Linked DNA regions of Homo sapiens: region 1 is reported to be linked to region 2. Evidence: microRNA targets listed by miRTarBase, many of them from high-throughput screens and not tested one by one. Region 2 holds a microRNA gene; the other region holds the end of a gene's coding sequence.
Evidence for each region. The annotated mature microRNA hsa-miR-6826-5p reads UCAAUAGGAAAGAGGUGGGACCU and lies in region 2 at 1,311-1,333, opposite strand. An mRNA with a match to its seed (bases 2 to 7 or 8) in the 3' UTR can be bound and repressed. Matches are read on the target gene's strand: a 7mer-m8 pairs with bases 2 to 8, a 7mer-A1 pairs with bases 2 to 7 and ends in A, and an 8mer does both.

Region 1: the mRNA of ZNF567 is a reported target of hsa-miR-6826-5p. Seed matches in the 3' UTR shown: 8mer at 1,568-1,575.

What each region holds. Positions count from the first base shown.
Region 1 is chr19:36,719,697-36,724,761 of GRCh38, forward strand. ZNF567 (zinc finger protein 567) reads left to right here. Exons shown (of 6, transcript NM_001322917.1): 6 at 1-1,640. The coding sequence ends at 972. Among named protein-coding and RNA genes, the nearest start is that of ZNF567, 35 kb to the left of the region's middle.
Region 2 is chr3:129,268,412-129,273,483 of GRCh38, reverse strand. It overlaps MIR6826 (microRNA 6826), which reads right to left and starts at 1,338; the gene lies at 1,241-1,338. COPG1 (coat protein complex I subunit gamma 1) reads right to left here. Exons shown (of 24, transcript NM_016128.4): 17 at 4,864-4,989; 18 at 4,484-4,552; 19 at 1,575-1,717; 20 at 1,069-1,240; 21 at 580-677.

The DNA of each region.
Region 1 (5,065 bases), not on the chromosome of region 2:
ACTGATCATCAGAGAACACACACAGGGGAGAAATCGTATGAATGTCTGCAATGTAGGAATGCCTTCAGATTGAAGTCACACCTCATTCGTCATCAGAGAACTCACACGGGAGAGAAACCATATGAGTGTAATGACTGTGGGAAGTCCTTCCGCCAGAAGACAACACTCTCTCTACATCAGAGAATCCATACAGGTGAGAAACCCTACATTTGTAAAGAATGTGGGAAGTCCTTTCACCAGAAGGCAAATCTTACTGTACATCAGAGAACTCATACAGGGGAAAAGCCCTATATTTGTAATGAATGTGGGAAATCCTTCTCCCAGAAGACAACCCTTGCTCTTCATGAGAAAACTCATAATGAGGAGAAACCCTATATTTGTAGTGAATGTGGAAAGTCCTTCCGCCAGAAGACAACCCTTGTAGCACATCAGAGAACACATACAGGGGAGAAATCTTATGAATGTCCTCACTGTGGGAAGGCCTTTAGAATGAAGTCATACCTCATTGATCATCACCGAACTCACACAGGAGAGAAACCATATGAATGTAATGAATGTGGTAAATCATTCAGTCAAAAGACAAATCTCAATCTACATCAGAGAATTCATACAGGGGAGAAACCCTATGTTTGTAATGAATGTGGGAAGTCCTTTCGCCAGAAAGCAACCCTCACTGTACATCAGAAAATACATACCGGCCAGAAATCCTATGAATGTCCTCAGTGTGGGAAAGCCTTTAGCAGGAAGTCATATCTCATTCATCATCAAAGAACTCATACGGGAGAGAAACCATATAAATGTAGTGAATGTGGAAAGTGCTTCCGCCAGAAGACAAATCTTATTGTACATCAGAGAACTCACACAGGTGAGAAACCCTATGTTTGTAATGAGTGTGGTAAGTCTTTCAGTTATAAGAGAAACCTCATTGTCCATCAAAGAACTCACAAGGGAGAAAACATTGAAATGCAATAAATGATGTGGTTTCTTATATGAATTCTTTACAAGCTGTTGTAAACATTTAGTTTTAAAAAGAAAAGCATGCTGAAACATGTTAATGTAATTTTAAATCACAAGTCTAATAATTATTAAAGTACCATACGGAATAACTGTCTACTGTTTACTAGCATATAAAATAAGTATGATCATTATTATTGAACTCTATCAGCTATGAAGCTAAATTTTAAAGTCAACTGCTCTTCCTACTGACTCAAATAGTTTATTTTTTAAAAATACTTATATAATACATGCAGAGACAAGATACACAATGATTATAAGTATTAATCTCCATAAGAGAAAATATTTATGAACTATATTTCTCATTGCACTCTGTAATAAAAAGCAGTTAGTTGTTACTTACCTAAGAGTTACCACTTCCGTAGCCTATAACATCAAAACGTAGTTTTTGCATGTTTTCAATTTTATAAATATATATTTTATCAGACATCATGAATTATTTTGTGTCTTGCTTATTTCACTCAATTTTTTAAGATCTGTACATTATTGCATGTGGCAGTAGTGTATTTTCATTTTGCATACTATTCCATTTTAAGAATATATTGCTGTTTATCCTATTGATGGATATTTGTATTTTTTATACTTTTGTGTAATAATAAAAATACTGCTGTAAATATTCTTGTTTATATCATGTGTGTGTTTGCGTGTATGTATTTCTGTTGAATTTATACCTGGGACTGGACTTATTCATTCCAAGAGTATATATGAGGTTTTTTTGGTCATTCAGACTGGAGAATTTCTACTAAAAAGAAACCTTGCGGCTTTATAATTGTGAGAAGGCTATTAATAAATCATGGACATGTGAATGCAGTATATGTAGAAGGCCTTTAGCTGTCTCTCAATGCTTAAATGCAAAACAAGCAAATTCGTATTGGAGGGAAATCTTGTAGTTGTCATGATTTTAGGGGTACTTTAGCCATAGCTTATTACACCTTATTTAATATCAAGGAATTAGAATTCATACAAGAGAAAGGGACATTGAGAAGGGAAATAGGTGAGGAAAATTTGAGAGTACCAGAGTCTTTTTTTTTTTCTTTTTTTTTTTTTTTTTTGAGACAGAGTCTCGCTCTGTTGCCCAGGCTGGAATGCAGTGGAGCGATCTCGGCTCACTGCAACCTCTGCCTCCTGGGTTCAAGTGCTTCTCCTGCCTCAGCCTTCTGAGTAGCTGGGATTACAGGCATGTGCCATCACGCCCAGCTAATTTTTGTATTTTTAGTAGAGACGGGGTTTCACCACGTTGGTCAGACTGGTCTCGAACTCCTGACTTCATGATCCGCCTGCCTCGGCCTCCCAAAGTGCTGGGATTACAGGGTGACCCACCACGCCTGGCTACAACATAAGCCTTTTCTACCATAATCTATAAGAAATGTAAGTCTCTGAAAATCCCAAATAAGTGACTAGAGAGATTTTGATGTTTGAGAATTGGAAATCTGCGAAGACAGTGACTTCCACGGTATCCTTTTGGCGAGGAGAGTAAGCTCAGTGGCAACTTGAACAGCATTATTGCAGGTCCTTCTTGGGAAGGATTACTTATAACCAGTATTTACTATGTATATGAAGTCATTGTAATAAAATTCAGTAGAAATTGAAATTTATTAATTAATTTATTTTTTGAAATGGAGTCTCTATCGTCCAGGCTGGAGTGCAATGACATGGTCTCAACTCACTGTAACCTCTGCCTCCTGGGTTCAAACGATTCTCCTACCTCAGCCTCCCAAGTAGCTGGTACTACAGGCACGTGCCACCACACGCAGCTAATTTTTGTATTTTTAGTAGAGACAGGGTTTCACTGTGTTGGCCAGGCTGGTCTTGAACTCCTGACCTCGTGATCCATCCGCCTCAGCCTCCCAAAGTGCTGGGATTACAGGCGTGAGCCACCGTGCCCAGCCTGAAAATTGTTTTTTAAAAGATTTAGAACTGTAAACCATATCTGCATAAACAGAAAGATGGTTCAGGGTTCAAATATTTGACATTAAATATATTAAACAGACCCTCTGGCCTGTTAGAGAGGGACAGCCATTGCCAATCAGTAGTAAATGGAACCATTCTTGTCAATCCTTATTTTTCTGATAATTTCATAGCAAAAAATGAACAGGGCAATGAGACAAAAGCATAAAAATTTAGACTTGATAGTAGCACACAGAAAACACACGTGTGTGTATGTGTGTATATATGTAAAATGCCTTGTCTATAATGACTAGACATGTCATTAAATTTAGCCTTAATAATTTATATATGCATAAAGATTTTTTAAAGTATACATTTTTAAAGAATATAAAGAATTATTAATAGGTTTAATAAACCTATTAAAGTAACTAAAACAGGTAATTATAGGACTTATAATCAGAACTGTGAGAACCCAAGGATTTTGTCATTGTGAATTTATAGGGGAGTTATATACTAGTATATGCTAACAGTGGTGACTAACAGAAGAATTGTACTCATGACCAAAGATGGAAGCCTACCTTGTTTTTCTAGGTGGAGAGGATGGCCTAACTGGATGTTTATCCTAGCGTCAACCCACCAAAGATTTGGGGAACATGTGAGTCACATTCTCTGGGACATTCTACTCCCCTTTGATTTTGCATTTCCAGACATTTCAGTGGCTACCACAAAAAATAAAAAGTATCTGTGGCATCACTGCATGTGCTGCCCTGTCTCCTGATTTACTGATTATCATGAAATAGCCATGTACTGTTTCAGTAGAACATTGTATCCAATGTCCACTTTATTTTCAAACATACTACATATATTCATGTTTTATAGCTCTTGAATATGAAGAACTAGAAAGTATGAGATATTAACGGGCAGTTTTATAAATGGCCAAACTTTGAAACTTTTGAGGCTGGGCGTGGTGTCTCACACCTGTAATCCCAGCACTTTGGGAGGCCAAGGTGGGCAGATCACCTAAGGCCAGGAGTTTGAGACCAGCCTGGCCAAGAGTGAAACCCCCTCTCTACTAAAAATACAAAAATTAGCCAGGTGTGGTGGCGCATTCCTGTAATCCCAGCTACTCGGGGGCCTAAGGCAGGAGAATCACTTGAACCCAGTAGGTGGAGGTTGCAGTGAGCCAAGATGATGCCATTGCACGCCTGCCTGGCCAAGAGAGTGAGACTGTGTCTCAAAAAGAAAATATAATCATGAATATAATCATTATTATTTGTATAATAATTATTGGGCATCTTTCCATAATCATGCTCATAACTTTCAGTTTTAACATGTTCTTTGTATGAAAAACTGATGAGTTTCTTATGAAACTGTCTATGGCTGTATCATATGGCAATTCTGTATTTCTTTTTTTTTTTTTTTTTTTTTGAGACAGTTTCACTCTTATTGCCCAGGCTGGAGTGCAATGGTGCGATCTCGGCTCACCACAACCTCTGCCTCCTGGGTTCAAGCGATTCTCCCAGCTCAGTCTCCCGAGTAGCTGGGATTACAGGCATGTTCCCCCATGCCTGGCTAATTTTGTATTTTTAGTAGAGATAGGGTTTCTCCATGTTGGTCAGGCTGGTCTCGAACATCCGACTTCAGGTGATCCGCCCACCTCGGCCTCCCAAAGTGCTGGGATTACAGGCGTGAGCCACCGCACCCTGCTTTATTTAATTTTTTTAACAATCATCATTCTGTTTTCCACAGTGGCTTCACTATTTTACATTACCAATGGCAATGCAAAAAGGTTCAGATTTCTCAGGCCAGGTGTGGTGGCTCATGCCTGTAATCCCAGCACTTTCAGAGGCTGAGGCAGTCTGATCAATTGAGGTCAGAAGTTCAAGACCAGTCTGGCCAACATGGCGAAACCCCATCTCTACTAAAAATACAATAATTAGCAGGCATGGTGGCGTGTGCCTGTAATCCCAGCTACTCTGGAGGCTGAAGCAGGAGAATTGTTTGAACCAGGCAGGTGGACATTGTAGTGAGCCGAGATCACGCCACTGCACTCCAGCCTGCGCGAAAAAGCGAGACTTCATCTCAAAAAAAAAAAAAAAAATTAGCTGAGCTTGGTGGTGGGGTTCTATAATCCCAGCTACTTGGGAGGCTGAGGCAGGGGAAT
Region 2 (5,072 bases):
AATGATTTCAATTATACCACTTCCCCCCAAAAATAACTCTAAGGATTATGAGTAATGTTTTCCTGTTGTTCATACTTTGTTTTGAATTTTGTTTTTGTATTTCCCAAGTTTTCTTTTTACACATGAACATGTATTTCCATAAGTTTAAAAAGTTATTTTAGGCCGGGCGCGGTGGCTCACGCCTGTAATCCCAACACTTTGGGAGGCCAAGGTAGGTGGATCACCTGAGGTGAGGAGATCGCGACCAGCCTAGCCAACATGGTGAAACCCTATCTCTACCAAAAATACAAAAAATTTGGCAGGCATGGTGGTGGGCGCCTGTAATCCCAGCTACTTGGGAGGCTGAGGCAAGAGAATCGCTTGGACCAGGGAGACAGAGGTTGCAGTGAGCCGAGATCGCGCCACTGCACTCCAGCCTGGGTAACAAAAGAGAAACTTCATCTCAAAAAATAAAAATAAAAAAATAAAATTTTAAAGAGCTAAAAAGCCAAAAACAGCTCCAGTCTCACTGTCAGTTCCTGAAGGGAGTTGCTTTGCAGCCTCAGCACAAAACTGAGCTTCCTGACACCAGGATCTTACCACATACTCATCCTCATAGCCTTCGTCATCAGTCTCCCCAGTGGTGGGATCACAGTCCTTGACAGTGAACTTCATCATGCAGCTGAATGTGCAGGCCACTGTGGGGAAGAGAGGCTGGGTAGTTAGGATGTCCCCAGCCTGCAGGGGATGGGCTCCTCCTGCAGGGGACAAGCAGGCAGGGGTCACAGCCTGCTTTCTAGGCCCCTGCTATGTTATTAGTAGCAGCAACAAGCCATCCAATCCCACAAAGCTGGACAGAGGGTGCCACCTTGTAGGACAGGAAAGTCATGAGTTCTAGTGAGATCCTGTCTCTTTAAAAAAAAAAATTTTTAAAGAAGAGCACTTGGGACTCAGCTATTCTTCTTCTTGGGACTGAAATCAAGGAGCTGAAGCTCTAATAGAAGGCAAACAGCTGGTGCCCAGCCGCCCACCTCCTCCTGACCCCATGAGCTCCCAGGAGGATAGGGTGGTATCTGGAGAGGGGCTCACCAGCTGTGGGGTCTTCTTTGGGCAGTGCCACCAGTGTGTAGCAGGTCCCGGGCTGGTTGTAGGGCAGGCTCCGGGCAGGCACGTAACAGAGCACCTCATAGGCCTCAGTGGGCTCCATCTGCACTGTGACATTCTCCAAGGTCTGGTCATTGAGTGTGTTTGTGCAGTCAAACTGAACAGGAAAGAGAGGGGAGCTTAAACATTGCACTAGGTCCGAGCCATGCTGCAGAGGAAAAGCCAGGAGGTCCCACCTCTTTCCTATTGACCAAGGTGATTCCCATCCCAGTCCCCCTGCCCCAGGTTCCCTGTCTTCATGCTGACAATCGGGAGCCATGGATGTCCCGAGTCAAGAGATATGAGAGACCGACCTGTTGGGGACAGATTCTGTCATCAAGTTGGGCTCCCAACCAATGCAGTGTGGGGACCCATGACCCTACAGGACCTGCCAGACCTGGGACAACTCCCTGGGCGCATGCCCCAGCAGGGCCTCAGCCCACCTTGCTCACCTGAAAAACCATGTGGTTGGTGAAGGTGTGTTTGGTGCAGCGGATGACATACTCCGTCTCTGACTCGGTGAGGGCCACGGGCTCAGGCGAGGACTTGAAGAGGGGCCCAAGACCGCGGAACTCTGGCACTGCTGCCAACTGCTCTGAAATCCACAGGCCACATTCACTCAGCTTCTCGATCCCCAGACCAACTTGTTGATGGTTTCTAATAAATTCCCATGACCATTCTCAAGGTGTTCCACCCTACCTTAGATGGATAGATATGTTTACCCAACTGGCTACTCATTATTTCCTGAATATATCCATGCATTTTCTCATCTCCCTGACTTCGCTCATGTGGCACAACCCCCCACAAATACTCTCCCCATCTCTGTACCATGAAAGACCTCAGAAGCAAAAAACTGATATGAGACCACAAAATCCTAGACCTAATTGGAGAATCCCCCAGCTATAGAAGCTTAGCAAGGATTTCCGCCCCCTACCGCAGCAAGGATTCTTAAAAGAAGGTGACAATTAGGAAAATAAGATCGATACTGCTATAGCTACAAAATCAGACAAAATAACAAACTGGTCCTATATATTTATCAGTTAAGACAAATGGCCAATAAAGAGATATTTCAGAATGAGAGTGTTGCAGAAAACCTAACTTAGAATTGTTTGTGTCTGGTAAGACCTATCCCTACACCCTATGCCCAGGTTCAAGCACTGGATTCAAGCACAGGCCCATGGGACCCCACCCTGGCTGGTCCTGGCATTCCTTGCAAACTAAAGGGAATAACCCAAGTGAATGAGGCATCTGGCAGATGTGTGCACATGGTGTCCACCTATAATGGCTACAGCTGCCACTCTTGTACCTATTCTATGGCAGGATTCCTCGCACTATGACCATGGATCAACTGTATCAGAATTACTAGGGGTTGGCGGCAGAGCTTGCTAAAAACTCAGACTCCATCCCAAATCTACTACATCAGAATCTCTGGTTTCAGGATCAAGGAATTTGCATTTCTAACATGTTTCCTCAGATTATTCCAATATATACTGATATTTAAAGACCACTGCTCTAAGATTTTCAACTTGTCTTCCCAATTAATTGAACTCCATGAGAACAGGGATTGTGCTTTGAGGCCATGGATCTGATATTTTTCCCTTTACTTAGAAGGTACTCAATTCACGTTTCAGACATAGAGAAAGGTAGGCCTTATTTTTATTATTTTGCTTTTTTCCTCCACAAAAAGTCAGCCTATGTGACCACTTCAGCCCTCTGCAGCCTGAAGACTGAATCTAATGAATATGCAGGCAATAAAAAGCCCAGAACAATCCAGGCTAGATATTAGGAGGAACTTTTGGGCCACCATGACCATCAACCACTAGAGTGCTTTTCTATTGATATTTATTTTCTTGGGACTCAGAGTTTTGGGCCTGATACTTACTCCCTGGGGGATTCTGTTGGTAGGGTTTCAGACTCTTCATCAATAAAACTGATATCATTATCTTGATCACAGCGTTGTTGTAAAGACAAATGAGGCAATAAATTCAAGATCTAGGAAAGTTCTTGGAACTGAACATGTATGTGATTAGTAAATGTGAGGCTTTTGGATGATTGTTTAAAAATGGAATTGTTACCCTTTAAGCGGCTTAGGAGACTTCCTTGGAAGGTGTGGCAGAATAATGACTCCAAGATGCCCACATGCTAATTCCCAGAACCTGCAGCTATGTTACCTTGCATGGTAAAAGGGACTTTGTAGATGTGATTAAATTAAGGATCTTGAGCTAGGGGTTATCCTGGATTATCCAGGGGGGGCCAGTGTAATCATAAGGGCCCTTCTAGGGCAGAAGGTCAGAGTAGAGAGATTTGAAAAGGCCAGGAGTGTGGCCTCTTCAAATCACTCTACTCTGACCTTCTGCCCTAGAAGGGCCCTTAAAGACGGTGGAAGGGGCCACGAGCCAAGGATACGGGCCACCTCTAGTAGCTGGAAAAGGCAAGGGGGCAATACCTGGAGCCTCCTGAAAGAACTCAGCACTGCTAACAAATGAAACCCACTTTGGACTTCTGACCGCAGAGCTATAAGGTTATAAATGTGTTAAGCCACTAAGTTTGTGGTAACGTGTTACAGCAGCAATAGAAAACTGATATAAATGGAAAGTTTCATGTTATAGCGATCCCAATTAGCTCAGGATCCATGCTATATTGATATAAGACATGATTCTGAGTGTAATGGGGAAGGGGGGATTTCATTTAATTCAACATTAATTGGGAGCCTACTGTGAGGAAGGAAGGCACTGGGCTCAGTGCTGTGATAGACGCAGAAAATAAAAGACAGAACATGTGAAGAACTATTTAGCACAGAGGGCTGTTTAAGAGAAGACAGAAGAGCTAGGATGGAAGTGAGGGCCCATGAAGGAAGAGGGGTCTATGCTTTTATCTACTGAATTCAGTGGATAAAACAATCTGCAATTAGACACACAGCCTCTCCCCTTAAAAATGCAACACCAGAGGACAGATGGATACCTGAAGAAAACCTTACAAGACAATGTGGACAGAACACACGTGGAACCCGACAAAAAGTACCAGTGTCTTTGAATCCCAGCACTGCTCTCTCAGACATTCTGAACTGGCCTGGGCTCCAGGGACCCGAGCCCTCCAAATTGAGGCCCAGTAACAGCACTGAGCCAGTTTGATCGGGACCTTAATTCCAGCCCCTCCTACTACTTTCTCTCTCTGAACTTCCAATTCCTCAGATATTGAAGGAACCCAACAACCACCACCTGAGGGTCAAATGTGATAGTAGGTCTAAAGCATCTCAAGGGCCTAGCACTCAGGAGAGACCAATATATGACAGTTCTTACTCTTGAACCCCCTGAGGAAACTAAGCCCAGGTCCCAAGCATCCCCCAACCACTGTGACTCACCCTGGAAGATCTCCTGCCTGGTAGCTGCCACTTTCTCAGGCTGTTTGACTGCTGTGATGGGGGTACTTTCTGCAGGAGCAAATTATACACGTGATGACCAACAGCTGGAGTCACGGGGCAGTGTGGTGGTGACCCCAGTGCTATTACTCAGGGATTATAAATACTAACCCTCCTGAGAGTGGGAAGCAGAAGACATGTGAGAGAGCCCACGTCTGTGTGTATGTGTGTCTCTATTTTCTGGAGCCAGAGGTGGAAAAGATCATTTCCTCCTCCCAGCATAACTGCCACCCACCCTAGTTAGGTTAGTGGCTTTGCAGCCAATGCAGACCCTCCAACAGAGGCCTGGCCTTGATGGCCTCTGGGAGGAGTATAAGTGTTACCTGTTCTCTGCTCTGCCATGGGCGCCGTGGCCAGGGGCACAGACTTGAGGTCAAAAGGTTTTTCTGATGGTTCTAGAGTGTACTGCTGCAGAGCCCTCTCCAGACCAGGGATGGACACAGTCAGACCTGGAGGTGAAGAGAGGTCACCATGCCTGGCAGATAGAGCAAAATGTGCACCAGGGACCACCATGGAGGCCCTGGGGTCCCGA